7 separate regions of the Homo sapiens genome follow, and all the other regions are linked to region 4. Evidence: fine-mapped QTL for protein levels in blood plasma. Region 4 holds a variant in brackets. A gene starts in each other region. All regions are shown on their reverse strands.

What was found. PIP is the chance, under the fine-mapping model, that this variant and not a neighbour inherited with it causes the effect. Protein levels are from antibody-based Olink assays in UK Biobank. Linkage for the fine-mapping came from a reference panel and not from the study's own genotypes, which makes the PIPs less certain.
Region 1: TNFSF12 starts here. The variant in region 4 is fine-mapped to the plasma level of the TNFSF12 protein (UK Biobank, PIP above 0.99).
Region 2: ERN1 starts here. The variant in region 4 is fine-mapped to the plasma level of the ERN1 protein (UK Biobank, PIP above 0.99).
Region 3: it holds the start of IL22RA1, and the variant in region 4 is fine-mapped to the plasma level of the IL22RA1 protein (UK Biobank, PIP above 0.99).
Region 5: INSR starts here. The variant in region 4 is fine-mapped to the plasma level of the INSR protein (UK Biobank, PIP above 0.99).
Region 6: it holds the start of ST3GAL1, and the variant in region 4 is fine-mapped to the plasma level of the ST3GAL1 protein (UK Biobank, PIP above 0.99).
Region 7: WIF1 starts here. The variant in region 4 is fine-mapped to the plasma level of the WIF1 protein (UK Biobank, PIP above 0.99).

What each region holds. Positions count from the first base shown.
Region 1 is chr17:7,546,649-7,550,976 of GRCh38, reverse strand. It overlaps TNFSF12 (TNF superfamily member 12), which reads right to left and starts at 1,919. Exons shown (of 7, transcript NM_003809.3): 1 at 1,665-1,919; 2 at 1,456-1,503; 3 at 782-857; 4 at 125-178; 5 at 1-34. The coding sequence starts at 1,823. TNFSF12-TNFSF13 (TNFSF12-TNFSF13 readthrough) reads right to left here and starts at 1,919. Exons shown (of 11, transcript NM_172089.4): 1 at 1,665-1,919; 2 at 1,456-1,503; 3 at 782-857; 4 at 125-178; 5 at 1-34. The coding sequence starts at 1,823. RefSeq lists silencers at 1,725-1,804, 1,835-2,024.
Region 2 is chr17:64,127,972-64,131,971 of GRCh38, reverse strand. It overlaps ERN1 (endoplasmic reticulum to nucleus signaling 1), which reads left to right and starts at 1,828. Exons shown (of 22, transcript NM_001433.5): 1 at 1,828-1,996. The coding sequence starts at 1,943. RefSeq lists enhancers at 1-23, 928-977, 1,028-1,227 and silencers at 1,648-1,777, 1,868-2,317.
Region 3 is chr1:24,141,514-24,145,875 of GRCh38, reverse strand. It overlaps IL22RA1 (interleukin 22 receptor subunit alpha 1), which reads left to right and starts at 2,736. Exons shown (of 7, transcript NM_021258.4): 1 at 2,736-2,836. The coding sequence starts at 2,794.
Region 4 is chr9:133,261,693-133,266,089 of GRCh38, reverse strand. It overlaps the pseudogene ABO. Among named protein-coding and RNA genes, the nearest start is that of OBP2B, 55 kb to the right of the region's middle. The variant TAGTGGTGGGCGC/C (reference allele first, on the strand shown) is at 2,716.
Region 5 is chr19:7,292,111-7,296,507 of GRCh38, reverse strand. INSR (insulin receptor) reads left to right here and starts at 2,094. Exons shown (of 22, transcript NM_000208.4): 1 at 2,094-2,716. The coding sequence starts at 2,617. RefSeq lists silencers at 1,513-1,692, 1,833-2,222, 2,243-2,522, 2,663-2,802, 2,853-2,912 and an enhancer at 2,894-3,652.
Region 6 is chr8:133,569,585-133,573,971 of GRCh38, reverse strand. ST3GAL1 (ST3 beta-galactoside alpha-2,3-sialyltransferase 1) reads left to right here and starts at 2,085. Exons shown (of 10, transcript NM_173344.3): 1 at 2,085-2,279. ST3GAL1-DT (ST3GAL1 divergent transcript) reads right to left here and starts at 3,400. Exons shown (of 2, transcript NR_186509.1): 1 at 3,102-3,400; 2 at 116-2,914. RefSeq lists silencers at 1,336-1,395, 1,586-2,075 and enhancers at 3,866-4,085, 3,445-4,298, 4,256-4,325.
Region 7 is chr12:65,121,141-65,125,474 of GRCh38, reverse strand. WIF1 (Wnt inhibitory factor 1) reads left to right here and starts at 4,170. Exons shown (of 10, transcript NM_007191.5): 1 at 4,170-4,334. The coding sequence starts at 4,284. RefSeq lists a silencer at 3,850-4,009.

The DNA.
Region 1 (4,328 bases), not on the chromosome of region 4:
GCCTGCGCTCCGTCCTGTCCAGGTCGTGGATGAACTGTAAAGTACAGGAAAAGGCTGGTGAGACCTGCCCTGACCCTCTGCCACCTGCCCCTCTCCTCCTGGGTATGGCTCACCCATCACCCACCTTCATAATGGGCTGCGATCGCTCTTCGAGCCCGTGTTTTCCGGCCTTTAGGTGCTGAGGATCAAGGAAAGACAGATGAGCAAAGCGGGCCCTAGTGGGGGTCCCAGAGCAACTCTCCCAGCCCCATTCCCCTCTCAGGAACCCTGGCATCCTTATTCTTGTCCAGACTCCTGGCCTTAGAATCTCAGGCCTCATCTTCCTCAGTAAGTAGAGTGACTATAATTTGTCATCCACACTGGGATACTGCTGAGAGCAAAACGGGAAGCTGCTATTAATCACACCGAGATAACAGGTGGGGGCCAGGACAACTGCATGCCGACTTGGACACGTGGTCATCCGGCCACCCCATCATCCCATTCCTAAGTCTCTTTGCCTACCGGGGCCCAGGCCTCTGACTGCCAGGCCTAGTCTCCATCAGGATCCCAGTAGTTCTTCTAACTCATGGCCACCCTGCCTTCCTGTTTGGGGTAGGGTCTGAAGGAGCACATCCATATGACAGAAGGAGCTTCAGAGGAGGGCGAGAATCCCTAGGTTTGAGTCTTGGCTGGTTAGCTGCATGACTCTGAACTCCTTTCACCCTCCGTGCCTCAGTTTCTCCCTGTGGATAATGGTTTTTGCTCTGCCCGCTTCCTGAGGTTGGGATAGAGGGATGCTCACCACTTCTGCGAGGCCGAACTAGTCGGTTCAGGAAAGGCGCAGGATCCTGGCTTTCTTCTGTCTGGGGATTCAGTTCCTAGGGGAATTAGGGCAGGGTTCAACCACAGACTCCCAGAGATATAAAGTGAGACATACGGGGCCTGTCAGGAGAGCCACCAGCCAGCAATAGACACAGAAGTCAGGGACAGATTAAGCCCCTCAGCCAACTACAGCTGGGGCCCCGGGCAAAGGTGAAGCTGGGAGTCAGGCCCCAGTCCTCACCCTTTCCTCTAGACCAGCTACACTTTCCCACCCACACACACAACCAACGCAGACCCTGCATTCAATTGGCACATTGCACACATGCCCGCACCCAGTCACCACGCACAGAGGATACACACCCTGTACACAACCGCACCCCTCTTCCACGCAGACTCACATATCTTATACAACCACGTCACCCCCAGCCAATAAACACCTCAGACTCAGGTGGCACAACCCCAGCACAAACCCCTCACACAGAGTTGTCACCACGCACACACACCCCTGCAGACACGCACCCATGCACGCACTGTGTTCACACACACCCTGCACACACCTCGAGTACGGCTGGCACAGCTGCACACACCTGCAGCCTCGGCTGTGCACACTTCCCATGCCCCAGCAGCCTGCAGACCGCGCCCACGCCCACTCACCGACGGGTCCTGGTCCTCCTCTGCCACCAGCTCCTCCTGGGCAGGCTCCTGCTGGGAAGGAGGGAGCGTCACCCTGTGCCGCTCCACCTGACATCTCACCCTCCACCCATCCTCCCTTCCCCTTGCCTTCAGCCCACGCGGCCCCCAGCGGCCCCTCTGCAGTCTCAGCTCCTGATGTGCCCAAGAAGGGGTGCGCAGCGGGGCCTCACCTGGGCGGACAGCGATGCCCGGCTCCCCAAACTGACCACGGCCAGCAGGAGGCCGAGGCAGGCCAGCGCCAGGCCCAGGCCCAGCGCGAGCGGGACCAGCAGGGCGGTGCCCGGCTCCCCCCGGCGCCCCCTCCGCCTCTGGCTCCGACGGGCGGCCATGGGGGCGGGGGGCTGTGCCTGCCTCACCGCCCCCCCATCCCGGGACCCGAGGGATCGGGGGAGGGGGAGCCGGCGGGCGGATCGGGCCGGGGAGAGGGAGGGGCAAGGGAAACGGGGCGGGAGGGGGCGCTGGGGACAGGAAGCCGGACGCTGTGTGTGATCAAACTCCGAGCCTCTCGCCGGGCGCTGTGCGCGCAGCGAACGGAGTGGGCGCCCACCCGACCTCTGAGCGCCCAGCCCGGGCGTGCACCACCAGGGCGAGGTCCGTTGCGTGCGGCCGCGGGAGCGACGGGGCTATGCGTGTGCGGGCACCTCCTGCGGGGAGGTGGGGAACTCAGGAAGGCCTGTTGGTTCAGATTCTTCTGTGTCCCTGTGTCTTCAGAGATAAGGACCCTCCTTTCCCCCAGGTGCAGGGAGGGCGCCTCTCGCAGGAGGCTGTTATTTGCTTCTTCAGGAAAAGGGCAGGGAGTTCCAGGTTGTATGACCTGGTTCAGGGAAGAAGGGCAGGAGAAGGTAAGAAAGATCCTTCGGCTTCTGCGGTTTTCTCAAATTCCTTCAGCTTAAAACACTCACTGTGCCGGTAGCACGTTCTGAAGCCCATCATTACCAATGATTGCCAAGCATCTGAGGAGGACCAGCAGCATGCAAAAGAAACACCAAAATTGGTCCGGCAGGTGGCTTACGCCTGTAATCCCAGAAGGCCAAGGCTGGGGGCCAGGAGTTCAAGATCAGCCTGGGCAAGAGCAAGACCCCATCTCTACAGAAAAGTTTTAAAAAATTAGCCCACGCCTGTAGTCCCAGCTACTCAGGAGGCCGAGGTAGGAGGATTGTTTGAGCCCAGGAGTTTGAGGCTGCAGTGAGCTGTGATTGCACCACTACACTCCAGCCTGGGCAACAGACCTTGTCTCAAAAAGAAAGAAAGAAAGGAAGAAAGAAAGAAAGGAGGGAGGGAGGGAGGGAGGGAAGGAGGGAAGGAAGGAAGGAAGGAAGGAAGGAAGGAAGGAAGGAAGGAAGGACCAAAATTGGCTGGGCGCGATGGTTCACGCCTGTAATCGCAGCACTTTGGGAGGCTGAGGCGGGTGGATCACGAGGTCAGGAGATCGAGACCTGCCTGGCCAAGATGGTGAAACCCTGTCTCTAATAAAAATACAAAAAAATTAGCCGGACGTGGTGGCAGGCGCCTGTAGTTCCCAGCTACTCGGGAAGCTGAGGCAGAGAATTGCTTGAACCCAGGAGACAGAGGTTGCAGAGAGCTGAGATCACGCCACCACACTCCAGCCTGGGCAACACAGCAAGACCCTATCTCAAAAAAAAAAAAAAAGAAAGAAAGACCAAAATTAACAAACAAAATTTGACATTGGAGGAAACAGAGATAATTCAGGATACAAAGAGTACTACCTAATATACTTAAAGAGAGTCAAGAAAAAGCATCCATAGAGCTGGGCATGGTGGTGCATGCCTGTAGTCCCAGCTACTCAGGAGGTTGAGATGGGAGGATCACCTGAGCCTGGGAGGTTGAGGCTGCAGTGAGCTGTGATCACACCACTGCATTCCAACACGAGCAACAGAGTAAGACCCTGTCAAAAAAAAAAAAAAAAAAAAGAGTATGCAAAGAAAGAAAAGCAGTTAGAATCTCCAGAAAATTTTCAAAACTGAAATCACAATGTAAATAAGAAACAGCTGGGGCCAGTTGTGGTGGCTCACGCCTGTAATCCCAGCACTTTGGGAGGCCAAGGTCGGTGGATCACAAGGTCAGGAGTTCAAGACTAGCCTGGCCAAGATGGTGAAACCCTGTCTCTACTAAAAAAACAAAAATTAGCTGGGCACGGTGGCGGGCACCTGTAATCTCAGCTACTCGGGAGGCTGAGGCAGAGAATTGCTTGAACCCGGGAGGTGGAGGTTGCAATGAGCCGAGATCGCATGACTGCACTCCAGCCTGGGCGACAGAGCAAGACTCCATCTCAAAAAAAAAAAAAAAAAAAAAAAAAAAAGCAACAAAACAGGCTGGGCATCATGGTGTGCACCTGTAGTCCCAGCTACTGGGGAAACTGAGGCAGGAGGATCGCTTGAGCCCAGGAATTCCAGGTTGCCATGAGCTATGATCTGGGCACTGAACTCCAGCTTGGGCTGCAGAGGAAGACCCTGTCTCAAAAAAAAAAAAAGATAATAAATAAATAATAAAATAAAAATAAATAAATACGGGCAGGGCATCATGGCTCACGCCTGTAACCCTAGAGCTTTGAGAGGTTGAGACGAGAGGATCTCTTGAGGCCAGGAGTTCAAGACCAGCCTGGGCAAAATAGTGAGAACCCCTTTCCATCTCTACAAAAAATACAAGAAAAATTATCCAGGTGCGATGGCATGCTCCTGTAGTCCCAGCTACTGTGGAGGCTAAGTCAGGAGGATCACTTGATCCCAGGAGTTTGAGGTTGCAGTGAGCTATGATCACCCCATTGAACCGAAGCCTCGGCAGCAGAGTGAGACCCTGTCTCTATAAAAAATAAA
Region 2 (4,000 bases), not on the chromosome of region 4:
TTTTGAATTGTAAAAGGGCTGCCAGAGTTCCAGTACAGCAAATTTTCCCCTCCTAGACTTACTCTGTTTGAGAAAAAGCACCAGAGGGGGGGATGTGAAAGTGACATTTTTCAGTCAAGCTTCTCTTTTAAGTCAAGTATACAGGGTCTAACAGATGCTGTTGTCAGCTGGCAAACTGGACAGGTAATCACTAAAGAGGTCCTCCCAAGCCAGGTGTCGTGGGGCACACCTGAAGTCCCAGCTACTGGGGAGGATCTCTTGAGCCCAGGAGTTTGAGAGCAGCCTGGGCAACACCGTGAGACCTCATCTCTAAAAAGAAAAGATAAAAGGTCAAGAAATAAAGAGCTCCTCCCAGTTTCAGGGCTGTAGGCCTCCCTGGAAGCCCGGCTATACTGCTCAGGAGTGCTGGGCCTCTCAGTACATCTCTCTGCCAATCCCAAACCTCTGTTTGCATTTAGACATTCAGGTAACACTTTTCAAAATGTCTCTACTGTTTTCACAGTTGCCAAGATTCTTCCCACTCTTACAGAGATGTGTTGGAGTCTCCAGCATGCGGTAGGACTTAGTCCCTTCACTGTAATCCAGGCCTAGGGGGTTAGGAATGGGGAGCTCTATTTGCAGGATTTGGGCTTACTGTCATTTTGGTCTGTTTTAGTTGGATAAGATTGACCACAATGCACACAGACTGGACATTTGGCCAGTCCCCCACTACTACTTTGTTGTTTTGTCTAGGAGTGCTTATTCTTTTCCTTCAAACCTGAAAAATCTTAGGCTCTCATATAAGCAAGTCAGGAAAAATTAGAGAATTTCATAGCCGTTTTCTTTTTCTCCTAGGATAAGTTAGATACCTTTCCCTGGGCTCCAAATCTCAGTTTACTGTCTTTCCTTGCAAAAGACGTGTCCTCCCTACCCATGTCCCTCTCAGTGGAGGCCAGTGCCAGTGACCAAACAGCTGCCGAGCTCTTTAACTCTAATTAGTACTCCACACCCTCACATAGACCTTGCAGGAGGCCTCAACCCACCCACTCCCTCCAACGAGTTGTGACGCAGACCATCTCAAACTTCACATCCACACGTGTCACATCAACGCACGTGACACAAGTGGCCGAAATGGTTTCCTCCTTATAATTTTTGGTGAGTGACTTGGCCGTGGTTCATTCCAAGCGGAAGTGATGGCTGGTGGATATGACTTGAGGGGAATTCCTGAGGGCAAGGAAAAGGAAGAAAGGGGCCCCAGAGAAGACGAGGCACAGCTGGAGAACCCTAGGGCTGTGAACACTGCGACTGCCGCGCGGGGCAGCTGCGCCGTGTTTGCTGGAAGCCTCCGGTAGCTGCTGAAACCTTCGCTCCGGAGGTCGCCTCGGTAAACCTTGCGGATGATTCCACCACGGCGGAAAGACGAAAAGGAGGCTTCTAGGCACCCGGGACCGCCCGTGTCCCGCCCTTTTCCCCGATGAAGTCTGACGCGGCAGGTCCCTCGGCAGGGTTAATGGGACGGCCTGGTGGGGCATTGCCGGTCTTTCCCAGCCACAGACAAGCTTCGCGCCTCGATCCCCCAGCGCCCCCAGACGCTGGATGCCGAGGCCTGGTCCTTTACAGCCGCCGACGCCTCATGAGCGAAGCCAGCCAGATGCCAGCACCGCCTTCGGCCCCGCCCCGAGCCAGCCCCTCCCACATCCCCGCCCGGGGCACGCCCTCGGCCCGCCCCCATCTCCGCCCCGAACACGCCCCTAGATTGGCCCCGCCCCGTCCCCGCCCGCAACTCCGCCCCGACCGGAAGAAGCCGCGGCACCCAGCGCTTATAGGGCCGGGAATGGGGGTGCCGCCGCTGCCTAGTCAGTTCTGCGTCCGCTGAGGCTCGGTCACCGCCTCGCTGTCGTCGCGGCGCCCCCGCCCCGTCCTCTGTCCGTACCGCCCCCGGAGCCAGGGCCGAGTCCTCGCCATGCCGGCCCGGCGGCTGCTGCTGCTGCTGACGCTGCTGCTGCCCGGCCTCGGGGTGAGTGACCGGGGAGCGTGGGGTGGAGGACAGCTCGCGACGGCCGGGTCGGGGCCGGGGCAGCGTCGCGGCGCCGGGGCTGGAGTCCGAGCTGGGAGCGCGACGGCGGCGGCCAGATGCCCCGTGAGCCCAGCCGTGGGAGGCTCGGGCCGGGCGTAGGAGGCGGCACCGGGCCGGGAGAGCTTCCCTGACGGGAGTCGCGGCCCCACCGAGGCGTCGGCCGCCCGAAGAGCCTCCCAAGCCAGCGCGGCTGTCACGGGCAGCGGCTCCCCGGACCCCGCGGGCTCGGGCGCAACTTCGTGGCGTCCTGCACGGCACTTGGGGGTCCCAGAAGGCCCCGGCCTGAGGAGGCCGCCCACCTGCGGGACCCTCCTCCTCGCGGGCGGGCGCCGGCGCTGCCTGGCGGGGGCCGCGGAGGAGCCGAAAGGGCGTTGGGATCCAGGGGAAGGGTCTGTCCTGCGCTTCGAATCCTTGTTTGAACTTTTTAAAAATTCGAAAACTTTGGGGAACGAATGCAACAGGGAGTAAGGACTCTCACCCGAGAGCTGGCTTCTGCCACTTGCCCTGCCGGTTTCTTGGTACTGGGAGGCTGCAGGCTTCCTTCTGTGCACCGAGACTTCCTTGAGCAAGTGGAGCTGTGGGAATTGCACTCTTGGAAGATCCCGCATGGGTTCGAGGTGAGGCCGCTTCAGAACCTCAAATGAAAGACTGTCTCCTCGTGGGAGAGCACCTGGGGCCATCAGAAATGTCTTTTCATCTTTTTCTGGAGGAGACGAATGATAGGGCCTGGTTTACATTCATTTAACTCTTTATGACCTTCACTCAGCTGTGGATTTGGGGGCACTTTGTGGGAGACTTGGCTTTTTTTTTTCTTCTGGTTGGAAGAACCTAAATTAGCGAATGTTTTTCACAAAATGTATTGTTCAGGATGTGAGCGTGGCAAATTTGTCCGTGTTCTGTTTAATGACCTCTTTAAAGGTACTGTGTACTCTTTAATAGGGATATCATGTACCAGGTGTCCCAGTAGAGCACTGACATGTGTGTGCCTGAGTGCCAGCCACCGTGTGAACTCTTTGGAGGTTTTGCATTTTAGGTAAATAACTGTCTGTACTCTTGGAGTAACAAGAATTTGGAAACAGGAGAAGTAAATAAATAAGGTTGCCTTTTTCAAATTCAGGGTTTTTTTTTTTAAATAAAGGAAAATTTGTAGACTCTTTATAATAGAACTTGTGGAAGTTAAGTTTTTCTTTCAAATAAAAACCCCACTTTTACAACTAAGGTCAGGTTTTGAACTTGAGCACCTCACCTTGGATTGGTAACTACTGCCTGGCATCTGTTCACAAACGAAGGTATAAGCAGAATGACCAAATGTTTGACATGAATTCGATCATTTCATAACGTCAAGGGATAGGTGTATAATGGTTTCCTTTGCCACATCTTTCCTTTTGCTACTTTGTCACTGGATTCTAGTGTTTGGTTATTGAATAACTTAGGCTAAAGAGCCAAAAATAACGATTTAGCTGTAGTTGGAACTATAGTTTCAGTTCGTGTAAATATTTCCAATTTGTATTTAGAAATCCAAACTTCTCAGAGTTCATGATAAAATATTCCAGACCCTTATCAAAAGGTTATAGTTTAGCGTAACTATATTTAGGTGAAAGGTCAGGCCGGGCCCGGTGGCTCATGCCTGTAATCCCAGCACTTTGGGAGGCTGAGGTGGGTGGATCACTTGAGGTCAGGAGTTTGAGACCAGCCTGGCCAACATGGTGAAACCTTGTCTCTACTAAACATACAAAAAAAAAAAAAAAAAAAAATTAGCCGGGCGTGGTAGCGCAGGCCTGTAATCCCAGCTACTGGGGAGGCTGAGGCAGGAGAATCACCCGAACCTGGGAGGCAGAGGTTGCAGAGATGGAGTCACTGTGCTCCAGCCTGGGTGACAGAGCAAGACTCTGTCTCAAAAAAAAAAAAGAAAGGTCAGAATTTCACTCCTAGAATTTTCTCCCA
Region 3 (4,362 bases), not on the chromosome of region 4:
AGAAGAAAACTGTCTTGGTGAGATTCGAGGAAAAGGGAATTGGCTAAGGGAGTGGAAATGGCATTCCAGGAGGAGGATAGAGCCCCAACAAAGGCTTGTCTTTAATGCCGATTTGTTATGTTTAGTAACCTTGCTTTCCCTTAATATAAATTAGTGTATTTCCTATATTAACTTTAGGAAATGCAGATAAGCAAAGGGAAGAAAAGAAAAATCACCTACAATTCCACTACCACCCAGAGATAACGCCCCTAGTGTTTTCATCTATATCCATGAAGACACGCAGTTTGCTCTGCGTGTGCAGGTGTGCGTTTTAGCCAGGGTGGTACTGTACATAGGTTATGTTATGCCTCTTTTCACTTGAAAAAATATGATGAGTCTTTACCAGGTCACGAAACATTTTTCTCCAGCATTATTTTGGAAGCTGCATTTGTCTTGCTTTGGGTGGACATACCATTATTCTTTTAACCAAACCTCTATTGTCAGACATGGAGGTTGTTTTCATTTTTTTCTCCTTTTTTTTTTTTTTTTTTTTTTTTTTGAGACGGAGTCTCGCTCTGTCGCCCAGGCAGGAGTGCAATGGTGCGGTCTCGGTTCACTGCAACTTCCACATCCTGGGCTCAAGCAATTCTCCTGCTTCAGCCTCCCGAGCAGCTGGGATTACAGGTGCCCGCCACCATGTCCGGCTAATTTTTGTATTTTTAGTAGAGACAGGGTTTCGCCATGCTGCCCAGGCTGGTCTCGAACTCCTGATCTCAGGTGATCTGCCCACCTTGGCCTCCCAAAGTGCGAGATTACAGGCATGAGCCACCACGCCCCACCTATTTTTTTCTTAAACTGTTAGAAATGAAGTCTGGGTGTTCCCACATTCCTTAGCAATCCAGGTGTCTTCCTTCCCGTTAATTCCTACATAACCACAGGCCCTCGAAACTACAGGATGCCCTTTTCCTCCATCAAGTTCCTTCTTCCAGTGCTTCTGAGAGGCCCCAAGGAACACTTTCGTGTTCCACAGACCTGTTGGGGCTGCGTCTTGTCCTCTCGGCCAGCCACTTGGGACCAAAGCCTGCTCTTCTCCCTAAGCGTCCCTTGTAACCTGTTTTTCTCGCTGTAGCTTCCCCACACTGCCTTGTCATCAAAGTCATCAAAAACCCTCTATCCATCATGGTTCATTCAGTAGCACAGAAACCTCTCCAGTCTTTCAGACCAAGGGACTTTAATGTAAAGGAGCTCGTCACCCAGAGGATGAAGGAGCTGGGACACTAATCAGGACAGACAGTTCAGAGATTTCCCCAAAGCAGGAAGCTGTGCCATCCCACCAACTGAAAGGAAAGATGAGGGGAGAAGGTGTTGCCAGAGCCAGGAGCTGGCCTCCAAACAGGAACAAGAAAGACATAAGGGGTTGCCTGGCTGATGGACTGTCCAGAGGGAGCCAGAACTGCAGAGGGATATGGCCATTGCTGGGGAAGCCACTCAAACAGAAAACGAGGGGAGAAATGCTCTGATCTCTGCCTCCCCAGTCTTCCCCCAGGGGCTAAACCTATCAGAAAGCAGTTGATAAAGGAGTCTAGAAAATGTAGTTTCCTGCAGTTTCAGGAAATGACTGGCATGGGCCCTACCTTAATTCCTCCAAAGCACAGCTTAGATTTGGCTGTTTTGTCAAACAAACTTTAGCAATCAGGGCTGATAACAATTACAATTCAGGAAAGAAAAACTTAAACACCGATCTCAGCATATCACAGCCCATTACACCCAACCCGTTGGCAGGATCCCTGCTAAAATTTCGCTTGCCTTTGTGTGCTTGGGGCCAGGCAAACTCTCCCCAGGGGCAGGACCCTCCAATCGTGTCCACCCTGACCAGAGTCCAGGCCCCAGGGCCCTTCTACCTTCTCCAGGCCCTGCAGGAAGGAGAAAACCATTTCCTAAACACCTGTCCCTTCATTCACACGAAGCTCATGTGCAGATCCTGCCCTACGTGGCAAAATGATGGGAGAGCAGCCTGAATCTTCATCGTCCCGAACCAAAGCCCCATTCATGAAGTTCAGCCCCATCTCTAGCACAGCAGAAAGAATCACTGAAGTTTGAGTTCCATTTTTTTTCTAAACTTTTGCAGATCCTAGACCCAAAGGCTCAAGGTAAGAGCGGCTGGGCTTCCTCACCCCCAACGGCCTCTCTAGGGGAGAGCTGTTCCCAAGCCCACCCCAAGCGTGGGGACCTGCCTTGATATGGAGGATCAAGGAGGAGCATCGGGTGCCCTCAATCTCCTCCTGCCAGAAAAGCAAAGGAGTCACAGCTTTTCCTTTGCTGCAAGAAACATTCTGGGACCTTTTTTTTCCCCCTCTGTTGTCCAGTTATTTTCATCAGGGTAAATCCCCTAGGAATAGAATTATTAAAGCAAAAGATATGTATGTGGTGTAGGCTTTTGATCCACAGTGCCAAATTGCTTTTTGATAAGGCTGCATATCGTGGATTATTCTTGCCTTTTCTGCCCCTCAGCTCCTTGATAAACCACTTGGGATGAATCAGCCACCGGACCAGATAAACAAGCCAGCCTGTTACTATTGCTGTTTTCTGCAAGTCGGAAGGGAACTCCCTTAGATCCCGCCCAGAACCTGGAATTCCAGAGCACACAGGGCCAGGACACCTTTGTACCCCTGCTCCCCACCGGCACAGGTCCCACCCACCCCCTTCTCCCCGCCCCATGCCCGGGTGGAGCCAGCTGCCAGGGCGCCAAGACTCCCAGCCCTCTCTCTGTGCACGGCAGAGTAGAGGCCAAGGGAGGGCTCTGTGCCAGCCCCGATGAGGACGCTGCTGACCATCTTGACTGTGGGATCCCTGGCTGGTGAGTGCCCATCTACCCTGTGGTCAGACCTCCCTTATCCCAGGGGCCAACGATCAGGGTCATCTCCCCAGCACCCTCCCCAGCCCGAGCATAGCCAGTTTCAGTTTCTCCCCTGCTAGGGCTGAGCAGGGTGCCGGGTGTTCACGGAGAAGCAAATGCCCAGCTTAGTTTGCTGGGGGCATGAGAGGGTGCCTCAGACCCTGGGTTCTTCCAGGGACCCAAAGGACCCTCGGGTCTTGAGGGATATAGCCAGCTGTCTGAACTGGGGGTGCTGGATCGCTGCACCTCAGTGAATGGAGAATTGGCCTGGAGGAGGCAGACATCCTTCGGTCCCTCAAACGGTGTCGGCACAGTTTGTACCATCCTTCCTCTGCCTCTCACTTGGCACTGGCCTGACAGGGGAGGAGGAGGAAGGACCGGGGGAAACGAAGCTTGAGTTCACTATTGCCTCCCTCCATGCCCCTGCAGGGCCTCTTTGGCCCCTTTTGTTATCATAGATCTGAAAGAGCATTTTCTCCTAGAGTGGCCAGGTCTGCTACATTAATAGGTCTTAAGACACAGGACTCATTTGGAAACAGGTCTTAAGGGCATAGTGTTCAAAGCCAATAAAGTGAGCGGAGTGGGGGGCTCATCATTATGGAGAACGTTACATGAGACCCTAGACTCTCTCTCTGCTCTCCTGGTGCATTGCATGAAATTCAGGGAACTTCCTTAGGAAGTCAAAGCATAGTCCTGATTGAGGATGGCGAGCAGGTATGGCCTCGGCCAGGCCCTCCTTGCTCAAGTGCAGGACGAGGCCCACGAAAAGGCAGAGCTTCCCACCTTCTCTGCCACTGTCCCGCCAGGGCTGCCTGCGTCTCCAGGGCTTCCAGCTCTGTGGGACCCCCTCCAGTCTGCTTCCCAGCATCAAGCTGGGCGTTCCAGGAAGATGTGAGGCACCCCCTTGAGGCACCAAGACACGTCCCTTTAGACCCTCAGCCATACTGGTTAGAAATCCTAGAGGCTCCCAGCCCTTTGAGATGGGGGACCCCAAGAAATAGCCCTTAGGAGATTGTCAAGGGTCAGCTGCCTCGCGCTGCACACACCGGGCCCTCACCCCCCCAATCTTAGGCTGACTCCAGAGCATGTGGAATTGTTTCTTGTTTGTGTATTTTTCCTTAGCTTCCCAGCTGGTTGACAGAACATTGTTTTTCCACATGAATGTGAAAAAACAAGTTGCCTTTTATAAATCCGCCAGGCTGCCAGGCTCCACACAACACATGTCTCCCCAGATTTCACAATATAGACTTTCACCCGGGAAGTGCCGAAGCAACACAGGCTGAGGAATGGATGATAGATTTGAGGAGGAAAAGGAGCGAGGAGGGTGGGAGAAGAGGGGGAGATCTTGTTAGACCCTGACATCCCTAAAAGACAGGAGTGGGCCTAGGTTCACTTACCCCACTTCAGGAAGCTAACTGCAGTTCCCTCCTGAAAAGTGGTGCCAACCTCCACGTAGCCCAGGGTCCTTTGCCTTGGCAACATGCCCC
Region 4 (4,397 bases):
CTAGTTTTTGTATTTTTAAACTTTTTTTTTCTTTTTTCTTTTTCTTCTTTTTTTTTTTTTGAGATGGAGTCTCGCTCTGTCGCCCGGGCTGGAGTGCAGTGGTGCAATCTCGGCTCACTGCAACCTCCGTCTCCCAGGTTCAGGAGATTCTCCTGCCTCAGCCTCCCAAGTAGCTGGGATTACAGGCATGCGCCACCACACCCAGCTAATTTTTTGTATTTTTAGTAGAGGCAGGATTTCACCGTGTTGGTCAGGCTAGACTCGAATGCCTGACCTCGTGATCCACCCACCTCGGCCTCCCAAAGTGCTGGGGTTACGGGCGTGAGCCACCACGCCTGGCCTTAGTTTTTGTATTTTTAGTAGAGATGAGGTTTCACCATGTTGGCCAGGCTGGTCTTGAACTCCTGATCTCAGGTGATCCACCTGCCTCGGCCTCCCAAAGTGCTGAGATTACAGGCATGAGCCACTGTGCCCGACCTCTCTTTTAGTTATTTTTAAATGTGCAATTAAATTATTATTGACTATAGTCTCCCTGTTATGCTATCAAATACTGGGTCTTATTCATTCTTTCTATTTATTTGTACACATTAACCATCCCTACATACCCTCTCACCCCTGCCACTACCCTTCCAAGTCTCTGCGAACCATCCTTCTATTCTCTATCTCCATGAGTTTAATTGTTTCGATGTTTTGATACTACAGATAAGTGAGAACATGCAGTGTCTGTCTCTCTGTGCCTGGCGAGAAAATATTTGTAATATTTGTATTTGGCAAAGGACTTGTATCCAAAATATAGAAATAAATTCTGCTCAATAATAAAAAGAGAAACAACTTAATGAGACCCAGTGTCTACAAAAAGTAGAATAATTAGCCGGGCATGTTGGTGCATGTCTGTAGTCCCACCTAATCAGGAGGCTGAGGGGGAAAGATCACTTAAGCTCAGGAGTTCGAGGTTGCAGCGAGCTGTGATCGTGCCACTGCACTCCAGCCTGGGTGACAGAGTAAGATCCTGTCTAAAAAAAATAAAAATAGAGGGCCAGGTGAGGTGGCTTATGCCTGTAATCCCAGCACATTGGGAGGCTGAGGCAGGTGGATTGCTTAAGCCCAGGAGTTCAAGACCAGCCTGGGCAACATGGTGAAACCCCATCTCTACCAAAACCACAAAAAATCAGCTAGATGTGGTGCATGCCTATAGTCTCAGCTACTCAAAAGGCTGAGGTGGGAGGATCACCTGAGCCCAGGAAGTCGAGGCTGTAGTGAGCCATGATCATGCCACCACACTCCAGCCTGGGCAACTGGAGTGGGACTGTGCCCCCCAAAAATATATATAAGTAAATAAATAAATAAATAAATAATAAAATGAGCTAAAGATCTGGACAGGCTTCATAAGAAGCAAGCAAATGGCCAATAAATACATGAAAAGATGATTTACCTCCTTAGTCATTGGACACACTTAGATACCACTCCTCATCCACTAGCATGGCTAAAGGATAAAAGAGTGACCATCAAGTGTTGGCAAGGACTGTGGTTCTCGTACATTCCTGGCGGGAATGGAAAATTCAGTCACCACTTTGGAACACAGTTTCTTACAAAGTTAAACATACACTTACCATATGACCCATCTTTTCCATTCCTTGGTATTTACTCAAGGGAAATGAAAACACAGGTCCACAAATACCTGCACATGAGTGTTTACAGAAGCTTTGTTGCTAGTGGCCCCGAACAGTGAAAAAACCACAGTGTCTGTCAATAGGAGACAGAATAAATGAATTGTGGCGGATTAACAATGGCGTGCTTCTCAGAAATGAAAAAGAACGAACGATTGATACACGTGACAATATAGGTGAATCTTCAAAACAGCATGCGGTGTGATGCGGCCAGACATAAAAGAGCATGTATCAGAGGATTCCGTGTATGGGAAACGCCAGGGAATCAGATCCATGGTTGTCAGGGTCAGGAGGGACCTTACTGGGGTGATTACATGTGTACATACATTGTGTGAAACTCATCAAAACCGTATACCTAAAGTGGGCACATTTTATTGGATGTAAGTTATCCCTCAAATTAAATTAATTTTCAAAGTTTTAAAAAATGGAACCATTTTTGCCACATTGAAGGAAAATTATTTCCACCAAGATTTCCCTACAGCCAAACGATCTACCAACTACAAAAATGGAAAAAATAATTTAGGACATGTAAAGTTCAAATGTTTTGCCTCCCACGTTTCTGTTTCAAGAAGCTATTCGAGATAAATCGCTCCGTGGTCACAGGACTTAGAAAGGTGGAGGTAAACACACACAAGCATTATAAGATAAGAAGTAACAGATGAATTAGTTGAAAGGGACTGATTTCGGGGGAAGGAATAGGAACTGGGCCAGGAGATAGACGCCTTTCAGGCTTGCCCTTGTGAAAACGATAGTCCCCTCTTACCTGCGGGGGATAGGTTCCGAGATCCCCAGTGGATGTCTGAAACCACAGATAGTACCAAACCCTACAGAGAGTATGTTTTCTCCTGTACACACATACCTATGATAGGGTTTAATTTATAAATTAGGCACCGGGTGGGATTAACAACCATAATTAATAGTAAAATAGAACAATTATAACAATATACTGTCCGAGGCGGGTGGATCACTTGAAGTCAGGAGATCGAGACCAGCCTGGCCAACATGGTGAAACCTGTCTCTACTAAAAATACAAAAAATTAGCCAGGCG[TAGTGGTGGGCGC/C]CTGTAAACCCAGCTACTCGGGAGGCTGAGGCAGGAGAATTGCTTGAACCCGGGAGGCGGAGGCTGTAGTGAGCCGAAGGTGCCCCTTTGCACTCCAGCCTGGGCAACGAGCAAAACTCCATCTCAAAAACAACAACAAAACAACAACAACAACAAAAACAATATACTGTAATAAAGGTTACGTGAATGTGGTCTCTCTAAAAAAAAATGTGTATATATCTTAGTTTGTGGGTTTTTTGTTGTTGTAGTTTTGTTTATTATTAAGAGACAGGGTCTTGCTCTGTTACCCAGGCTGGAGTGCAGTGGTGTGATCATGGCTTACTGCAGCCTTCACCTCCTAGGCTCAAGTGATCCTTCCACCTCAGCCTCCTGGGACCAGAGGCATGCACCACTATGCCCAGCTAATTGTTTTTTTTTTTTTTTTCTTGATAGAAATGAGTTCTCACTATGTTGCCCAGGCTGGTCTAGAACTCCTGGCTTCCAGCAATTCTGCTGGCTCAGCCTCCCAAAGTCCTGGGATTATAGGCACGAGCCACGATGCCTGTCCTCAAAATATTTTACTGTACTGTACTCACCTATTATTGGCCTTTGGTTGACCATGGGTAACTGAAACTCCAGCAAGCGAAGGTGTGGATAAGGGAACTACTGTACGTGACTTTAATATACATAAAATCACCTTAAAGACAATGATTGTTTCCAGAACATGAGCCTCTGAGACAGCAGGGAGATACTAGGGGAAGTTGGTGGCTCCTCTCCCTGGCAGGAACTGGTCTGGGCTCCTGGCTCAGCCTGGCCATGAGGCTGTCCTGGCCTCCCTCGGTGGGTTCGACAGTGACCTCGACGTGCTCATTTCAGTGTGGTTCATTCCGGTCTCCCAGGGGAAGGGGGTGCTGAGTGGAAGGAGGTCAATGGGAAGCCGGGGTGGCTCTCAGAGTCTGCAGGAGCAGTCGGGCTGATGAGCTGGGAGGAGCAGACCGCCTCCCTCTTCTCTGAGTGGGAGGAGGGCCAGATCTGGACTGGGTTTGGAGATGCTCAGGTGGGGCTCAGAGCATCACCTGTGGGGCAGAGGGACCATCTTGGCAGATGAAGGCCCGTCGCAGGGTGTGATGCCTGAATTACAAGGCGGGACAGGTAAAGTGGGGCAGGTGAGAGAAGGAGGGTGAGTGATGTGATTTTTCTACTCCTGTTTTCCAGGAAAACCAAAATGCCACGCACTTCGACCTATGATCCTTTTCCTAATAATGCTTGTCTTGGTCTTGTTTGGGTAAGACACATTTGACCATCGAGGCTGGCCTGGTTTGGGGAGAAGTGACCACAGCAGCCAATCAGACCCATGGGGCCTCCCTGAGCTCCCCAAGTATCACAGTTATCAGGGTCCTAAGGACAGTTATTGCCTGCGTCCAGCTCTGGCGGAGGGTGTGCTTACTTGCTCCCTTATTTTAGCCTCACCTGGGCAACAGGCTCATCTCACTCCCATTTAAAATTTTCCTAAGTGTGGAGTCTGGGGCTGGGAGAGCAAGCCCCTTGCCCACAATTGCGTGGCTGGGGGTGGGGAAGGCAATTCTGGGTCCCAAGCTGTTAGTCGCTTCCAGACACAGAAGGTCCCAGAACCAAGAGTGAAGTCACCTGTCACCTCTACTGGGGCATCTCTGGACACGGTCTGGAAACAC
Region 5 (4,397 bases), not on the chromosome of region 4:
AAACAAACAAACAAAAAACCCCATGTCCTCAGCAAACCCCTCCCTATGCACCTCCCATTTCCCTCAGCTCATTACACACTCAATTATTTTAAGGGCTCTCTCCCTGGCTCAGTTGTGAACTCCATAAGGAAATGGGTCATGTTTATTTTGCTCACTGAAAAATCCCCTATTACTTATTGCTTGTTGATTCTCCCACTCAACAAATATTTATTAAGCAACAGATTTGTCAGGCACTGGGTTTAAGCAGTGAAACAAGACCGAAAAGATTTCCGCCTTCACGGGAAGGGGAGAAGACACAGAAAACGAATAAGAATTTCAAGGCCAATCATGGTGGCGCATGCCTGTAATCCTAGCACCTTGGGAGGCCAAGGCAGGAGGATTGCTTGAGGCCAGGAGTTCAAGGCTGCAGTAAGCTAGGATTGCACCACTGCATTCCTGCCTGGGTGACAGCAAGATTCTGTCAAAAGGAAAAAAAAAGAAAGAAAAGAAAAAAAAAAAACAAACAATTGCAGGTAGTGGGGTAAACATGCTATGAAAATGAGAGAGAAGGGGCCAGGCGCAGTGGCTCAGGCCTGTAATCCCAGCACTTTGGGAGGCCAAGGCCGGTGGATCACCTGAGGTCAGGAGTTTGAGACCGGCCAGGCCAACATGGTGAAATCCTGTCTCTACTAAAAATACAGAAAATTAGCTGGGTGTGCTGGCGCATGCCTGTAATCCAAGTTACTTGGGAGGTTGAGGCAGGAGAATCACTTGAACCCAGGCAGGTGATGTTGCAGTGAACTGAGATCTGGCCATTGCACTCCAGCCTGGGCAACAGAGAAAAACTCCATCTAAAAAAAAAAAAAAAAAAAAAAAAAAAAAAAAAAAAAAAAAAACAGAGAGAGAGAGAGAGAGAAGGAAACGGAACTGGGGGGAGGATTTGCAAAAATATGGTTAGGGATGGCACTTCAGAGATGAAGCCATCCTGGAGTGTTACGGGCAAGGGAAATGCTGGGGCAAAGGCCCAGAGGCAGGAATAGGTTTGGCCTGTTGCATGAACAGTGGGTCCAGCTCCTAGCAAACTGTTTATTGAATGAAAGAAGAATGAATGCCTTGGGTCTAGGGTTGTGCTGGGCGCTTTCTTAAGTTTTCTTTCCCGGGTACCTCCCCAGAACTGGCATGCAGGTATTATTAAACCCATTACACAAGTGAAACTGGCCCAGAGACAGAAAAGTCCCTGGTCCAAGACCACACAGGAGTGAGGGGTGGAGGAACCCTCCTCCCATTGAGTTCTGGCTTTCCTATACTGAAAGCCCCTTCCTCTCCTGCAGTAAGGTAGGTGGAACCGCTGTCCCGCCTTGTTGGTGAATGTCGTTGCTAGACTTCAGACACATACAGGCTGGTCTGCTGAAAATCAGAGATGTCCACCTGCGCCCTATTCGAGGTCTCCGGCGTCTTCTTTGGCGTCGTCTTTGCCCTTTCAGAAGCGTCTGCACATTTTTCCAGGTGTCATTTCTCCAACTTGAACACAGGGAGCGCACTGGGCACGCGGGCACGTGGCTGTCCCCAGGGGCCTGGCTTGGGTCTCGCCCCTGGGCCGGGGCGCACTCGCGGGCGGGACATCTGGGGGCGCCCACGCGCTCTGGGACGAGTGTCGCTGGCCAGGCCCGGACTGAGGAAAGGCGAGTGAGACACTACTCGCCTGGGGTGCAAAATTTAAGGGAGTGAAAAAAAAAAAAAAAGAAAGAAACCAAAACCACCTCGAGTCACCAAAATAAACATTTTAATGCAGTATTTTTTAAAAAATCAACAGGAATCCTCCAAAGCCCACTATGAACAAAATAGCAAAATGGTAGAGAAAGGATCTGTGCCGCTGCGTCGGGCCTGTGGGGCGCCTCCGGGGGTCTGAAACTGGAGGAGACTCGGGGCTGTAGGGCGCGCGGATCTGGGGCGCGCCCTCGGTCCCGGCGCGCCCAGGGCCTCCCGCGCGGGGCCCGGCACAGGGAGGCGGGGAGGCGGGCGGGGCGGGGCGGGGCCGGGCGGCACCTCCCTCCCCTGCAAGCTTTCCCTCCCTCTCCTGGGCCTCTCCCGGGCGCAGAGTCCCTTCCTAGGCCAGATCCGCGCCGCCTTTTCCCGCGGCCCGCACGGGGCCCAGCTGACGGGCCGCGTTGTTTACGGGCCCGAGCAGCCCTCTCTCCCGCCGCCCGCCCGCCACCCGCCAGCCCAGGTGCCCGCCCGCCAGTCAGCTAGTCCGTCGGTCCGCGCGTCCCTCTGTCCCGGAGCCCGCAGATCGCGACCCAGAGCGCGCGGGGCCGAGAGCCGAGAGACAGTCCCGGGCGCAGCGCGGAGCTCCGGGCCCCGAGATCCTGGGACGGGGCCCGGGCCGCAGCGGCCGGGGGGTCGGGGCCACCACCGCAAGGGCCTCCGCTCAGTATTTGTAGCTGGCGAAGCCGCGCGCGCCCTTCCCGGGGCTGCCTCTGGGCCCTCCCCGGCAGGGGGGCTGCGGCCCGCGGGTCGCGGGCGTGGAAGAGAAGGACGCGCGGCCCCCAGCGCCTCTTGGGTGGCCGCCTCGGAGCATGACCCCCGCGGGCCAGCGCCGCGCGCTCTGATCCGAGGAGACCCCGCGCTCCCGCAGCCATGGCCACCGGGGGCCGGCGGGGGGCGGCGGCCGCGCCGCTGCTGGTGGCGGTGGCCGCGCTGCTACTGGGCGCCGCGGGCCACCTGTACCCCGGAGAGGGTGAGTCTGGGGGCGCGGGCGTGGGCGGGGAGCGCCGCGATGGGGAGAGGACCCCACCCAAGCCAAAATCGAGCCCCCGCTTGTGGACTGAGAACCCTCCCCAGGGGCGGGGGGCGGTGGCCAGGACGGTAGCTCCTGCATCGCGTAGGGGGAGCGGGAAGCCTCTGACCTTGGCCTTTGCCCGCCCGGGCTCGCGCCTCCGCGCCCTGCGTGCCCGACCTGAGCCCGAGGAACCTTGCCCCGGTGCCCGCCCCGCCGCGGGCTCCTCTCTGGAGCGCGCCTCCGACCCGTGCCCCGGCCCCTCCGAGCCCAAGTCGCTCCGGAGACACGACACGCGTCATCTTTGGGTCGCGGCCGGGAAGTGGGGTCACTGGGTCTGGACAGCCCCGAACAGCCAAGTCCCCCGAGCGCATATGGTGTAGGTAGAGCCAAGCGCCCTGAGTGCCTCACCGGTGGGTGACGCTGCCTGGGGTCAGGGACTGCAGAGCCCCCCTCTACCCAACTACCTTGGATCTAGGCCCGTGGCCACCCCGGACTCTAGGTCCATGTTTACCCTTTTGGGTTCTGTTTCCAGATGTCCGGAGGCAAATTCTAAAGCCTTAGCAACAGCAGCAATTGTAGCAGAAGTAGTGGCGGTTTTTTACCCTATTTATTGTAATTGGTATCACCGCACGCCACAGCCTAGTCTATCTTATCTCTCTGGACTGTCACAGTGGCCCCCGGAGGCAGATACAGTTATGCACCCATTTCACAGAGGAGTAAACTGAGGCTCATGTAGGACGCATAACTCCCTTGCCCTAAAGTCAGTGCCAGAGCCAGGACTTGAGCCTCTGTGTGTCCCGTTCTGCCCAAGAATCTGGACTACTGTCCCTTGTCTGCTGTCTCCTTGACCCCTCCTCTCCCCTCAGCCCTGCGCTTCATGAAGGAGCCTTTGACCTTGAGTGAGCCTTTCGTTCCCCCTGACCCCATGGGCCCCTCTCCCACGTGTGGGCAGCATCTTCCTTGGGCTTGACAATAGGCACCTTTGGGGTTGTAAGATGAAGATGGCGCAATCATTTAAGGAATATAGCCTGGGTTTCCCACTGTGGGGTCTGAGGCCCTGCTTTAAAAATATCTGTTGGGTTACTGTTTCAGATTTCTCCATAAAAGGAAATCAGTCGTGATGAGGAAGGGGTCAGGGAGGGAAGGAATTGAAGCTCTTAAATGTATTGATGGGGAAACGGGTGCATGTAAAATCAGGTGCTAGAGTGGACCAACCGGGTTTGCTGAGTCGACTCTGTCAATCACATAATGTCTAAAAGCCCCGGGCCCACCCCCCCCCAGCCCCGCCCCCAGGTGCCTGGGAGACAGTAGGTGCTCAATGAAGGGTGGCGGTTAGTTGGAGTTCTTGTTAAGAAAATCTGGCCAGCTGCGGTGGCTCAAGCCTGTAATCTCAGCATTTTGGGAGGCTGAGGCGGGCGGATCACGAGGTCAGGAGATGGAGACCATCCTGGCCAACATGGTGAAACTCCCTTCTCTGCTCAAAATACAAAAATTACCTGGGTTTGGTGGCGTTCGCCTGTAGTCCCAGCTACTTGGGAGGCTGAGGCGGGACAATTGCTTGAACCCGGGAGGAGGAGGTTGCTGTGAGCTCAGATGGCACCACTGCACTCCAGCCTGGCCAAAGAGCGAGACTTTGTCT
Region 6 (4,387 bases), not on the chromosome of region 4:
CTTTCCACAGAATCTACTAGGATATAGTAGCATAGTCTTATATGAGTATAGCATTTTCTATTTTTCGAATATGTTCCCATACATTATTTGATCCATACAATAAACAACACTTTTGTTATTTCATCCAAAAACTCTTTATTGGCCCAGACGATATTCCCAGCCAAAGCTAAAAGTCTGGTGCATGTTAGAAGCTCTTCTTTGCTGGAAGACGCTGCTGGTGGAGGGGACAGTAGCCGATGTAAGCAGAACTCTCTGCCCCCCTCCTCCCATGCACACAAGCAATCTGGAGATGCAGTGAACACCTTGACCTGAGTTTCAGAAAGAGGAAAGCCCACAGGATGTGTCCAGGCAGACAAAAGGGCTCACCCCTTCTCTAGAATTCTATCAAAAACCAAGGGCGTCAGGCAAGAGGTCTCAGAGCAGGTCCCGAAGTACCTAAAAGGCTATTCATCTTTTCCTTCCCTTTCTAGTAGTTATTTTTCTCATTCTCTCTCCTCCCCCTTTTAAAAGCTGGTTTTTCTTCTACTTTTCTCATCTCTGAATATTTCTCCTTTTCTCTCCCAAGTCCCTGAAGTCTTCCCCAACACCCTAGCCCCCATCTTCTAGCACAGGTCATCTTCCTGCTGTGGGCAGGGACCTGACACTGGAGAAACCCACCATCTACACAGCTGACTTACTACATGTCAAAGACAGTTCTAAAGGTTCTATGTGTACGAATTCACTAACTCATCACAACAGCTTTATCAGACAGACACTTCTTAGGTCGGTTCTCACAGATGAGGACACCGAGGCACAGAGTCACCTAGGCTGGGAGGTTCAGTCACTAGCCCAAGCTCACACATCCGTTGAGTGGCAGTGCAGGATTTGAACCAAGAAGTCCGGCCATGCGGGCCCTGGCCTGAATCCCTGTACTACAGCAGCCGTCTGATGAAACAAAGGCTGGGGGACTCTCCCCTTCCACTGCAAAAGGTTGATCTCTCTCCAGCTGGAGCAAGGGGCGCTGGAAGGATGCAATGACCCCAAAGGCAAACTGTGCCTCTTTCCTCTAACATTCCTCCGAAAAGTTGCGAAAGAGGTAGTCTCAGTAAGGGGTTAAGAACCGTAAAACCAGATTTACATGACTTGTGTACTGCATTTAGCATCAAAGCGCTGCACTCTGCCTTTCAGCAAAAGAAGTCTCCACCGCCCCCGCTTCCCTGTAAAAGAGGGAGGGCTGAATAACTGCAAGCCTAATCCGCAAACCCCAAGCTCCAGCCGCAGCCTCCGCATCTGGAAGGAAAAAGCGGCGGCAGGCGAGCCAGGGCAAGGGCTGGGCCAGGGCCGGGGCCGGGACCAGGGCCGGCCGCAGTGCCCGGCTCTGTGGCTCTGAACGCGGTTCTGGCCGCAAGAGTCGTCCAGCCCACGCTCCTCCCTTCCCCCTCCCTAAATCCCACCTCGAGTCCCGCGCCCTTAGAGGAAGTGGGTGGCTCTGCCCGGTCGCCAGCAGGGGATCGGCCCCTTCTCCCCACCGTGCCCCCGACTCGAGTTCTTCTGGGCACTGCCATCCTCTCGGTGCGTGCCCGTCTTCCTGCTGAAACGGACCCCAGTGGCTCCCGGGCCTCCCGGGCGCTCTTCCTTAGCCCCGCCAGCTTGAGGGCCGCGTCCAGAGAGCGGGGAGCTCCTCTCGGGGCGCCGATCAGGTCCCCGCGCCGCAGCCGCCGCCTCCGGCGTCTCCCAGGCTCGGCCTCTGCCGAGCCCGCTGCGGTCCACGTGGCTTGGCAGAGCTAAATTCGGCTTGCAGGAAGCCCGGAGCCAAGGGAAAGCCGAGCCAAGTTGGGGTGGGCGGGGCCGAACGGAGGCGCAGAGTCGGGAGGGGCGGGCACTGGGCGGAGGAAGGGGAGGGCCGCGCGCAGGGGAGGCGGTGGCTGGGCTCTGGCGCGCCCTGGCACCCGGCCCCGGCCGGCCAGGGAAGGCGGCCCCTCCTCGGTCGCCCCGCCTTTCACTCCCGTTACACCCGGGGGAAGGTGTTCCCGAGCCCTCTCCCACCCTCATCCCGCCTCCTCGCTTCCTCGGCTCCAGCCTCCGCCGGCGGAGCCCACTATGCCAGACAGTTTCGACACTTTGCAAAGACAAAGAGCCCTAGACCGGAGGGAGGAGGAGGAGGAAGAAGAGCGGAGAGAGAAGGAAGAGGCGATGTGAGCTGGGAAGGGGGCAAGTGTCCGGGACACCCACACCCCTGTATTCTCCTCCGAACCCCTTCATGCCCAAATCCCGGAAACTCCAGCGTGTCTCCAGCCGTGGTGAGTGCGCGCGCGGAGGCGAACCCTGCTCGGGGTGCGCGGGGGCTGCGTCCGCCTGAGTTGGGGCTCGGGCAGTTTCCTGTGGATTCTCGGAGTGGAAGGTTGATTGTCTGGACCCGGGAACTGAAGGGGTGGGGAGGGGACTAGGAGGGTGTGACAGTGGAGCTGGGACTGAAGACCCCGGGATTCTAGTGGAAGACATTCGAAGGGAGACCCCTTCCTTGGCAGCGGCGACCACCCAGGGCTTTGGGAGAGGAAGAAGGTCGGGGTGGAGGTTCGGGCTTAGGGGTCTTCGGCCGACACTGGAGGAGCTGCCTGGAGCTCTGTGGGGAACCTACGCCAAGTCCCGGGCAGCGGTTCCCGAAAGCAGCCCCAGTGACATTGCACCCGGCGCCGGGCTGGGATCTCCTCCGCTGGGGCCGCCCGTGGGAGGAGACCTCGCTGGGTGGCCGGGCTCAGGCGCTCTCGAGCGGATTTGGGGTCACAGGCTGGGACACCGCGGAGGCCGCCAGTGTTCTGGACGAGCGGCCGTGGGACAGTATCCGGATCGAGTCCCCCAATCCGCTGCAAGCAGGCGCAGATCCGGGAGGTGGCTATCGGCCCCGGGGACGCCGTCAGAGCGCGCTGCTCCGGATCTGGGGGTGAAGTTGACACCCGGGACAAGAGAGCTGAACGCGGCGTGGCGGACAGTGGGGGACGCGGGTGGGCCAAGGAGAGCACGGCCGGAGTCGTGTTAGTGGCAACTCGAAACTCTGAATCCGCCCCAACCCCGTGAGGCGTCGCAGCTCCCAAGAAATAATCTGACAAAAGTTAGCAACTTGCCTGTGTCTCTCGTGTGTGTGACCTGCGTGGGGGCAGGGCCACCCCTTCTGGGAGCGCACGGGGACGGACAGCGGTGACCCTGGGGCGAGGCGCTCTGGTGAGGGTACAGTTAGTTTGGAATCGGGACGGTGGCGCAACTTTCCGCTCCTCCTTTCTCTGCGCGAGTGTTTAAGCGTGACCTTGCGGGAGGAAGCGCGGCTGAACTTGAGATGGGGGTTGAGCTTGCGCCCCGGCTTGGCACAGAGACGTCGGAGCGCGCATTAGCCTGGCCTTGCAGCCGGGTCTCCCAGGAAGCGTGTGGGGATCGTCTGGCTCTGCTCGTCAGCTGGAGCCCTGACTCGCTCCTCCCTCCTACGCTAGGGTCCTCGGCGGCCGTACCATGCGCGGGGCTCGGTGGTGTGTTGGGCGAGGGGACACGTGCGCACCCAGAAGCGCGCAAGGGGGTGGGGGTTGGGCAGGTCACTGCGTCTCGCGGGCTGGGCGAGTCCCGCAGAGGGAGTCAGCCGTGACCCTGAGGGCAGTGACTGGCTCGCCGCGTCCCTGCATCAGGCATTCGCCCGGCTTTCTCGTGATTGTTTCCGGGCACCCCTGGCCTCTCCCGACTTCTCCCCCTCGCGGGTCCCCAAGCCCCGCAAGTTTGCGACGAGCTGGTTCTCCAGGGAGACAGCGAGCGCCCACCCCCGCTCTGCGGCTGGGTGTGTGTGGTGAGAGGAAGAGACGGGAGGAGGAGGCGAGGCCGACTCGCCAACGAGGAAAACGGGGTGAGAGGGGAGCCGGGTTTTCCAATAGTCGCCAGGGCGCCTGGCACGTCGTAGGTGCTAACGCAGTGTTCATTGACAAGGCCCCAAGGTGGAAGGTGCTGGCAGGGGCCCGGACGCCCCCTTCTTCCCTTCCAGTCTCTAAAATGGAGTTCAAATGTATCGACCAAGCCCTTTAGGCTTCTAGACGTGCCTGGAGCACCTACTACGTGCGGGGGCTCTACTCCTGGCCTGTTCGTAGAAGCTGCGGGCGGAGCCTCCTGATTTTCTTTACCCCGCGCTGCCCAAGCGCCCAGAGGCTTCGAAAAGGCAAGGTGCACTGCCCCCTGCCGGCTGCTGTGGAAACTGCCGCTTGTCTCTGCGGTGGGGAAGGGGCGCCCAGTGCGGGGGTCCCTCAGTGCCTTCCCGCACCTCCCCTTCCTGCCCCAAACATTAGGACCCCTGCCGGCTGTTTTCTGAAATCCCATGGTTGGCTGAAATGACTGACTAGAGTTCACCACTCCGTGCCCCTCAGCCTCTGCCAATATC
Region 7 (4,334 bases), not on the chromosome of region 4:
AGTCATGTGTCTTTAGGTTCCTCTTGGCTACGAGTTTCTCAGACTTCCCTTTTTTGTTTGATCACTGACAGTTTTGAGGCATACTGATCAGGAATTTTGTAGAATGTCCTTCAGTTGGGTTTTTCTGATATTTTTCTTGTGACTAGACTGGGGTTATGGGTTTTCAGGAGCAAGATCACATAGGTAAAGTACCATTCTCATCACATCATATCAAGGGCACATACTATCACATGACTCATCACTGTTGATGATCTTGATCACCTAGTTGAAGTAGTGTTTGTCAGGTTTGTTACTTTCCCCACTTTCCACACTGCACGCTATAAAAGGAAGTCACTCTGCACATCCCACACTTCAGGAGTGGGGAGTTACGCCTCGCCTCTTTGAGGACAGCGTCTCTAAACAAATTATTTGGAATTGTTCTCAGCACAATCTTCCATAACCAGGTCCTACCTACATTTTGGGCTTCATCCCCAGCTGCTCCCTCCCTCTCCCATTCCAGGCTCATCATACTACAGGTCAGCACCTGCAGATCCTGCATGGTGCCATTCTTTCTCATGTCTCTTGCTCTCACTATTGCCACTGTCTATGCATGGATGTTCCTTATCTTTCCCCCTTGCATGCTCAATTCCCCTTTGACCTTCAAGACTGCTCAAGTATGCTCTACTCTAGAAAGTCTTCCCAGAACCCAGTCTGCCTCGAAGGATTTTCCTTGAGTCCCAAAATACCCTGTGCATTTTCCCACCATGGCGTTCATTCCTCTCTATTGTTTATTCTCAACACACTCCCTTGTTAGACTGAGAGTTCTTTGACAGCAGGGCTGTCTTTTTACTTACCTTTCTATCCCCTGTGCTTATATACGGCAAACATCAGACACCGGGTAAATATATTTTGAATGAATGAATGAACAAACAAATGTGCAGAATTCTAGATACAAGATTTCTTCTATGAATTTCCAGTCATTCTGCCTTATCAACAATCACCACATTCTGCCTTGTATTATGGTTGTTTAGGTACTTGTCTTACTTATTTTAGTAGCTCTATTGCTCTTTGAAGGCTATGATCATGTTTTATTTGTACTATAATTTCCAGGTCAGTGTCTTACATATAATAGCTGTTTAATAAATCTTTGTTGAATAAGCAAATGAGTTAATGAACAAATAAATGAAGCTGCCTGCACACATAATTGATGAGAGGGAATCGCACAAGGAAAGGAAGCATAATGAACTGGAAAATAAATGGCAGAATTTTCAAACGAAATGAAGTTGACTTGCCTAGCACATTATTTCCAAATTTTTATCATATGCTAGTAAATATTGTCACATGTTTGTTTAAAGAAATTTAAAAACTTAAATCAATTCTTAATGAAATAGCTACATAACTGCTCCTTAACAACAGAAAGGAGAGTCAAGCCTGATTCATCTCTTAGAGATAGACCTCCCTACAAAAAGAACCACGCTGCTACCCTTAAAAATCACTGTTGTATAACAAAACATGTGTTCCTTTGTCCCCTTTAATAACCAAACGAGTTTATATCAAAAATTTTTTAAATAGCATTTCTCTTTATCTATCTCTAATAAAATATAATTTTTCTAAGTGTCCTGTGCTGGAGAGAAGTAAACAGAAAACAACCATTCTGGAAGAAAAAAAACGTCCTTATAGCAAGATAGATTACCATTGTTATCAACACCAAATTCAACTGCTGCAGAAGAACCTCACTCAGAGGAAACCGAGTTAGGAGAGAATTTAGTTCCTCTTTTTCTTGCACCAAAAAATAAATTTTATGAATATTTCTCAATTAGTATTTGATTAGGAAAACCTGTAGAGGGCGTCCTTGCACCAAGAGCCATAGAGGTTTGCGCAGAACTAGAAAAAAATGTTAAAACCACTCGCTCCGAGTTAAAGAAAATGCCTATTGTGCTGTGAAATTATTATCTTTACCTGGGTGACACTGGCATTATAACATTAAAGTGTTTTAAAAGTAGCCTAATGTTCATACATTATATACATGAATATTCATAGAAATAAAAAATAATGCAATGTTGGGAAACAGGTAAATATTTTTATTGTAAAGGAAGAATCACTGTGAAGCTTTGGATGCAAATAGACTTAATTATGATTTATTTATCAGTATGAGGTATAAGTTACTAAGAGAATGGGCTTTGAAATCAGAGTGTCTGGGATTTGAACCCTTACTCTCATTTACCAGCTGGATATCCACAGTCAACTTACTGGACTTTTTGAGCCCTCTTTCCTCGTCAGTAAAATAAGAATAATAGTAGTACCTACTTAAGAGTTGTGAGGATTAAGTAAGCACTTAAAATAAAAGTACTTTAAAAATTAAGACACTGCAAGTTCAAATCAGTCATAGACTTCTTGTCTAATTCCTTTTTTCCTTTTTTTTTTTTCTATTGGTTGGTTGTATAGCTGCAAATATTTCCTCATTGGAAATCTATATTCTCAGAACCTAACACTGATTTAACTTGATGCCTGCACATGTCCACCATCTCTTCTGTTGTTTCTGTTTGTTTTTCCCTCTTGAGGCATCTGCTACTCTATAAAGGACTGATTGAAACACCACGCCCAGCCCCAGACATTTGATCCTTGAGGCATTTGTCACAGCTTCGGGTACTAAAGAACAAACACAAGTAAATGAACCTTTTATGAGTCCGAAGGCTAAGTTTTTTAATTAAAAACAAAACAAAACAAAACCCTTTTGCTTCCGTTTTCTTTGTGCATCCGAGGAATTAGGCAGGAGGCAAAAATCAGTTCTTTCTGCTGGGCCAGGTGGATAGGTTATGCTGCAGCCCACTGCCGGCCAAGCATGCTTCTCACAGACGAGGCCAGAGCCTTGGTTTTGCCCCCACGCACCTGTGAATTCGGCAACTTTTAAAAAATTATTTTATTTATTTATTTATATATTTTTTGAGACGGAGTCTCGCTCTATCGCCCAGGCTGGAGTGCAGTGCCACGATCTTGGCTTAATGCAACCTCCGCCTCCCGGTTCAAGTGATTCTCCTGCCTCAGCCTCCCGGGTAGCTAGGACTACAGGCCCCCGCCACCATGCCCAGCTAATTTTTGCATTTTTAGTAGAGACGGGGTTTCACCACGCTGGCCAAGCTGGTCTCGAACTCCTGACCTCAGGTGATCCGCCCGCCTTGGCCTCCCAAAGTGCAGGGATTACAGGCGTGAGCCATCGCGCCCGGCCGAATTCAGCAACTTTTAAAAAATATCAGCAAACGTGAAGATATCCACGATGTTAGAGGAGCCCTACCCCGGAGGGTCAGGTACAGCTATCGTCCAGGGCCCAGGGCACTCTTCCGGGCACTGCCGGGTTATCAGGGAGACAGACGGGAATCCCCAAATGCTGGGTGTCGGGCAAGTACCAGCTGGACGCCCTGCGCCTCGAGCCAAGGCCAGCGCCTGCCATCGGCACCATCGGACAGTCGAGCCTCGAGTTTTAACTGCTTGGGAGCGCGCAAAGTGCCAGCCTATCGCAGAACGGAGCGCATAGGGTTGGCGGAGAGAGGAATCCTACTGGCTGAAAGGGAGACGAAGGGCAATTTGCGCCTTCAGTGAGCGCCGGAGGAGGAACAGGAGTCATCACCTCATCATCATCATCATCATCATCATCACCATCACCATCACCATCATCAGCACTCAGTCAAGCCCAGCGTTGTCTGCTCTCCCCATTTCCCTCCCCCGAAGCCTCCCTTGGCCCGAGGAGGTGGCGAGTGATGTCCCAGGGGTCTCTGAGTGCCCTTCTCCGGGTCCGCCAGCCCTACACGCCCACTTCGCGGGCGCTCCACTGGGCGCACCGCACTGTGAATGCAGCCTCGGGGGTCCCTCGCGGCCCCGCCCCCGGGGGGGCCCCACAGCGCCCCCAAGTGGCGGCCGCCCAGGCCTCGCGGGCCCCACTCCTCGCTCGCACCTCGCTCGCGCCAGCCCTTCCCGCTCTTCTGTTCTCGCTCTATTTGCCCCGCTGACTGCTGGCCTCGCCAGCTTTGCCAGTCTTACGTCTCTGCCGCCCCCACTCCCGCCCGCGCCCCATCTTCTTGCGCGACTCGCGCCCGCTGGTCCCCCCCTCCTCCTCCCGCGTCCTGCCTGCCCCCTCCTCCTGCTCTCGCAGGCTCCTTGGCACCCAGGCCGGGAGGCGACGCGCCCAGCCGTCTAAACGGGAACAGCCCTGGCTGAGGGAGCTGCAGCGCAGCAGAGTATCTGACGGCGCCAGGTTGCGTAGGTGCGGCACGAGGAGTTTTCCCGGCAGCGAGGAGGTCCTGAGCAGCATGGCCCGGAGGAGCGCCTTCCCTGCCGCCGCGCTCTGGCTCTGGAGCATC